Linked DNA regions of Homo sapiens. The protein of the gene in region 2 interacts with the protein of the main gene of each other region in a pairwise test. Each region holds a gene or a part of one and is shown on either strand. Other genes may lie near its edges.

Region 1 (2,763 bases), on a different chromosome or scaffold from region 2:
CTGCTTCGATATGAGAAAGATAGGATGAAAACAACACCAAGCTTTGTAAATATGAATAATATGTTTAAGTATTTTTTGCCAAAATCAGAAAACGATACATATGATACACACAGAACTTTGATTGTACCTTCTATTCAACTATGGGTATAAAACCCTAGCCAGTGAAAATAAATGAAAATAAAACTACGTTATAGCATATAGATTAAAAAAATAAAAGTGTGATCATGTGCAGATAAAATTGCTCGTTATATAGAACACCCAGAAATAAATCAATAGTTGACATAATAGATTTACATATATAAAATCAGTGGAATAAGTAGATATAAAATCAAAATGCAGACATCAGTTGTATTTCTATTTATAACAACAAAAATTACTAAAGGGAATTTTAGAATCAGGATGCCATTTACAAAAGCATAAATGTAAAATACCTACATTTCTGTATGACTTCAATCCCCCAAAATACAAAATACAATAGAGAGAAATTAAAGATAACACAGTACATTGAAGGAAACACTTTATATTGATTAGAAAAGTCAATATTATAAAGAAGCTAATCTTTAAAAATTACTTTAGAGAATAAATGCAGTCACAAATAATCCCAGGAGAGGCTTTTTTTTTTTTTCTGGATAGCTTTATTGAAGTGTCGTGTACAAAGCATACATTTCATGCACTTAAAATGATTAAAAATCAATGATGTTTAGTATATTCGCAGAGTTACAACCATCACCACTACTGAAATTTAGAAAGTTTTCATCACGACACAAAGTAACGTTCTATCAGTTAGAGGTCATCTCCTATTTCAACCTCCCTCAGACATTGGCAACCACTATTCTACTTTCTGTCTCCATGGGTTTGACTGTTCTTGGTACTTCCTATAAGCTGACTCACATAACATGCAACTTTTAGAAAGGCTGAAAACCACAAATACCATGTTGAGCAAAATGAGCCCGACACAAATGCTAGGATGTCTGTACTTTAGTAATTGTGTGTATCCTGTTTCAATAATTGATTTAGAATTTTCTTATTAGAGCAAATAACATAATTCATTTTAAGATTTATGCAATCATAATATATTTCTATTTTAAGAAATATACAATTTATCTGATGCACTGCAAATGCAAACGCTTTACCTCTAAAGCTTATGCTTACAATGATATATTATTGAAGATCCACACTGGGCTGATTTAAGTCGATTTACTTGTAGCACTGCACAGTTAAGTTCAGCATTATCTGAGTCTTTTATCCTGTAATGGAGAAAAATCCATATTCTGTTACATTTTAAGCAAATGATTCATGAGACGAAAGCATTTTCCATGTACTGTAAGAAAATAATTTCATGGAAAAGGGTAATTAAATTTTTCATAATATTAGTAAGAGTCATTATTCTGAACACTCAACAGAGTAGTCCCCCTTCATCCACGAGGGATATGTTTCAAGATTCCAGTGGATGCCTGAAACGGCAGATAGTGCAGAACCTATAGAGAGATTATGTTTTCTCTACACATTCATAACTGTGATAAAATTTAATTTATAAATTAGGCACAATAAGAGATTGACAACAATAACTACTAATAACAAAATTATAGCAATATGCCAACAGCACTACTCTTGTGCTTTGAGGATATTCTTAAGAAAAAAAGTAAGTGTGGCTTTTTAATAAAAACAAGCACTGCAATTCCCTGATAGTCCAGCTCGAGCTTGTCCAACTCGCTGCCCACGGGCCGCATGTGACCCAGGACAGCTTCAAATGCGGCCCAATACATATACGTAAACTTTCTTAAAACATTCTGTGATTTTTTTTTTCTTTTTTTTGCTCGTCAGCTATCGTTAGTGTTAGTGTATTTTATGTGTGGCCCAAGACTCTTCTTCTTCCAATGTGGCCCACAGAAGCCAAAGATTGGACACCTGATAATCAAGAAGGTTACTAGCTGACCAATGAGCGGTTGAAATATATGGACTACTATGGTCTATTGTAAAATATTTATGTCAGCATTTCACTAACTTTCCACATCTTTCTTCATCTCTATGATTCCACATAGATTTATTCATATTATTCTTCTGAATTTATCCTTTATATATATATTGTTATATAGCGCCATACAAAACAACTTACTCATGTTTGAAAGCCAAACCATTCATTGTCACCCATGGATGATGACTGCTGTTACGAAACACACCAATCCATGAGGATGGTGAAATGATGGACAGAAATTTCTAAAAGAAAAGAAAGAATTTTCACTTAAATAATAATTATGAAAACATTACAAAAACAATATATTAAATTTGAAAACCACTATTTGCAGTGCCAAAAACTTTCATAAATGTTTATAATTTTGATATAAATGAACCCGTCAATGTTTATACTTAGTACTTTTATTCTTCTCATGTTAATAAAGAAGTTTTAATTCTTGCATTATAATAGTTACCCCAATTGACTGAATAAACACAGTAAGGATTTAAATAAGTCTCCTGATACTGTGCATTCATTCCTCCAGATACTGTGACTAAATCAAACTATTTTTGTGCTATATTTCTCAGAGTTGGAGATTTAGAAGAGAAATTAGAGGTTGTGATTCAGAAATAAATGACATGGAAGCTACATATTGGGTTTTCTGGGTACCACACCATTCTTTAACTAGATAAGCCCTCACTTTTTTATCTGATTTGGTTTTGGTGGAATAACAGTGATCCTGACCAGGTGGTGTAGACTCGTCTCTCTCTGCTACTCCCTACTAAAAACAACTATAAACTCTGGGATTA
Region 2 (3,500 bases):
TCAGGGAAGGAGCGGGCGAGTCAATACATCCATAAGAGAGGAGACCCACTTAATGACACTTCTGACACAAGCTGGTGGTTGTGAGGAAAGGGATCATGGGGTCTGAAGCCTCCTCGTCCACTCCCTCAAACGCTTTTTGCTCCCTTCTGGTTCATAATCGTTATACCTTGACAACTTTTAATGAGGTAGGGAGAGTCCTCCAATGTAGTCACATGACTTTTATCCTTACAAAAGCTATATTATAATAGCTAAGCAAATATTTTAGTTAACATAAAAATTGTCTTCTATGGCCAGGCACGGTGGCTCACGCCTATAATTCCAACACTTCGGAAGGCTGATGCAGGAGGATCACTTGAAGCCAGGAGTTCCAGACCACCCCGGCCAACATGGCAAAACCCTGTCTCCACTAAAAATACAAAAATTAGCCAGGTGTGGTGGCACATACCTGTAGTCCCAGCTACTTGGGAGGCTGAGGCACAAGAATCGCTTGAACCCAAGGGGCGGAGGTTGCAGAGAGCCGAGATCGCACCACTGCTCTCCAGCCTGGGCAACAGACCGAGACTTCTTCTCAAAAAAACAAACAAAAAAAAGATTATCTTTTATGTATAAGTAATTTAGAAATGCTCTCCAACAGGTTATAATCAAAACTACACAAATTTCTGCAAAATGGCTAGCCCAAATTGGTATTTCCAAAGAGGAAATGTTTGCCAATTACTATACTATCAGCTAATGAAATTAGTATTTTATTTGAAAGAAGTCTGCCAAAATAGATTGCAATGTGTTTTCTTAGACCAGGCCCGTAACTTGATGAAGTTTCTGGAACAGAAAAACAAATAAAAATCAACTCAATGTGTCTTTGTCCAAAATGTCCAAACAGCTACATATGTATGTTTGAACGAAATGTATTTAGATATTATTACTTAAAGATCCAATAAAATAGGTTTCGTTAATTCTCTTTTTATACCTAGCCAATCAATTCCTTTACTAAGTGTTAGAAGTAGATGAAGGACATTAACTGCATAATGCTGAGAACTTTGTTTCTGATTGCTGCCCATTGATCGATGATTAAAGATGCCATAAAGTCACCCCACTTAAGAAACCTAGAGAGCACTGAGGTTATGCTTTCATGACCACAAATTACCACTGCAATACCGTGAATAAAATATAACTTTTTAATTATTCAAGGCAATGCAGAATTACTTGTTCTTGAATCACTGATCAGATTCCCTATAAATTACCAGTAGAGATTAATGAGATTTTTTTAAATCAATAATGATACCTCTGGATACAACAGAAGATTGAAGGCCAGTTTTGCAGACAGTCTGTTATTTTATTGCACAGATTTCACTTCAAGAATAAAATGCACCATCAGTATTTGGAGAGTTTGGGGTCTCAGATACTGATATACCATCAGTGTTTACACCCGTAAAGCCAAATTCAACAGTACAATTTATGTTAAACAACATCACTTCAAGATGGCTAACAATACAAATAGAGAGAAAAGTGGGGGAAAGCTTTAAAAATGTGTTAGTTTGAAGCATATGAAAATGTACGATTAAAAACTACATCATACAAACCTGAAATCAAAAATGTTTTGTGGAACATCAGTTAGAGTTATACTCACTTGCACTGTTATTTATTGCATAAAGTCTATGTGGTTCATTTCCTTCATATTGATGAATTGAGGATTTCAGGAAAACCATGGTTATAAAAATGATCAATCTTGAAAAAGTATGTACAGATAAATGTAAAATCACAAACTAAAAAATATCCCTACCCCTGGCCCTCAACTTACAAAAGGGAAAGTTTCCCATGGAAAGTTCGTTCCACTATTGCCCTCCCTCCCCCATCCCATGTCCCCAATGCTATCTTTTTCTGTCTCGTACAAGTAAATGACCTTGAAGGGAAGAAACAAAAGCCATCTTTATGAGGCTCCCATTGTCATCTGTATCAGTTTGAAAAGCATCTTGGCCGGTGTGGTGGCTCACTCCTATAATCCCAACACTTTGGGAGGCCGAGGCGGGAGGATACTTTGAGTCCAGGAGTTCGAGACCAACCTGGGCAACATAGGGAGCCCTCATCTCTATAAAAAACTTAAAAATTAGCTGGGTGTAGTAGTGAACGCCTGTAGTCCCAGCTACTTGGGAGGCTGAGGCAGGAGGATCACTTGAGCCGGGGAGGTTGAGGCTACATGAGCCGAGATCACACCACCGCACTCCAGCCTGAGCAACAGAGTGAGGCCCTATTTAAAAAAAAAAAAAAAAAAAAAAAAAAAAAAGTATCTTGTATTTCTCTTCCCCACCCCCACCTAACTCAGTGATGTTTGCAAAACATTTGAAATTTAAAGAAACAAAATATATATAATATATTTTTAATAAACAGCAAAAGAATGCCCAAGAAAAGAGCTAATAGGGGCAACACCAAGGGAAAAAAATGTCTGGGCATTATCTGAGCTAGAGATTTCTTTTAAGGCAACCAAAAGATGGGGGAAATGGGGAGAAGTTAAGACTACAAAATGCCAGACAGGATGCTTTTCTAGACCTTTGGCTTTAGAGCCTGGCAGAGGAATGGGCTTCCCCACACTGTGACGAGCAAACCTAGGGCCCTGGGCCCAGCATCTACAGCACCTCTGTGGGCAGCCGGGCAGCCCTCTTATACGTGGGCACTCTTCGCATGAGTCGGGGAGCTAGAGCCCGCAGTGTAGTAGAAACGGTTTTCACCAAAGGCCTGGGCATCTCCAGCGCAGCAGAGGATGACACAGCCACCCACGAGGCACAGCACAGCACCAATCCAGCCTGCATACAGGGAGTAGCCAAAGCTCACGATGGTGGTCTCACGGTGGGCGCACACAGGGAACCAGATGGTGGCAACAAGGGCGCAGAGAGCTGGAGAGACATGGAGAGGCGGTGACTGGGCGCAACCATCACACACCAAGCACTTGGGCAGGCCCACTCACTCCACATACACACACTTGTGGCTTCCAACCAGCTCCAAAAAGCTCCATACACACAGTTCTGCTCCCTCAACACTGAACCAATATGTAGCAGTTGGCATCTGTAGAAGAAGTAGACTGCTGGGTCCTTATTTTTTTCAGCAGGTAACAGAGACAAAACAATTCCAGTGTAAAAACCTAGAAATAAACCATTTAAGTCCAAAAAATATTTATTTGTATTTACTTGTATATCAACACTTCATATCTACAGTTATAATTCTAAAATTAGTATTCTTACTTAATTGTATTATAATTACCCCTTTACATGTCTATGCATCATTCTAAGCTCTGAGTTCTTTGAAGGTAGGGTCCATGTCTTACCTATGTCTACCTTGGTACAAGGCAAATAGTATGTGCTCAATGTAGACCAGTTGAATGGCTGAATGATCTGAGCTATTCAAATATGAGAAACAAGATGGCAGCCACCTCAATTTTCCACTCTATTTTCTCAGTTTGGTCAATTCACATTACAAAGATCTGGAGAAGGTATGAAATTTCTCTTGCTGTG

The links.
Region 1: the proteins of CLDN11 (region 2) and KLRC1 interact in binary tests that used the Homo sapiens proteins (3 or more experiments, as listed by UniProt).

Annotation. Positions count from the first base shown.
Region 1 is NC_000012.12:10,445,416-10,448,178, forward strand, and holds the end of KLRC1 (NKG2-A/NKG2-B type II integral membrane protein), read right to left. Parts: intron 2,218-2,763; coding exon 2,117-2,217; intron 1,248-2,116; coding exon 1,136-1,247; 3' UTR 613-1,135; downstream 1-612. UniProt on the Homo sapiens protein: Immune inhibitory receptor involved in self-nonself discrimination.
Region 2 is NC_000003.12:170,431,909-170,435,408, reverse strand, and holds the end of CLDN11 (claudin-11), read right to left. Parts: intron 2,886-3,500; coding exon 2,653-2,885; 3' UTR 718-2,652; downstream 1-717. UniProt on the Homo sapiens protein: Plays a major role in tight junction-specific obliteration of the intercellular space, through calcium-independent cell-adhesion activity.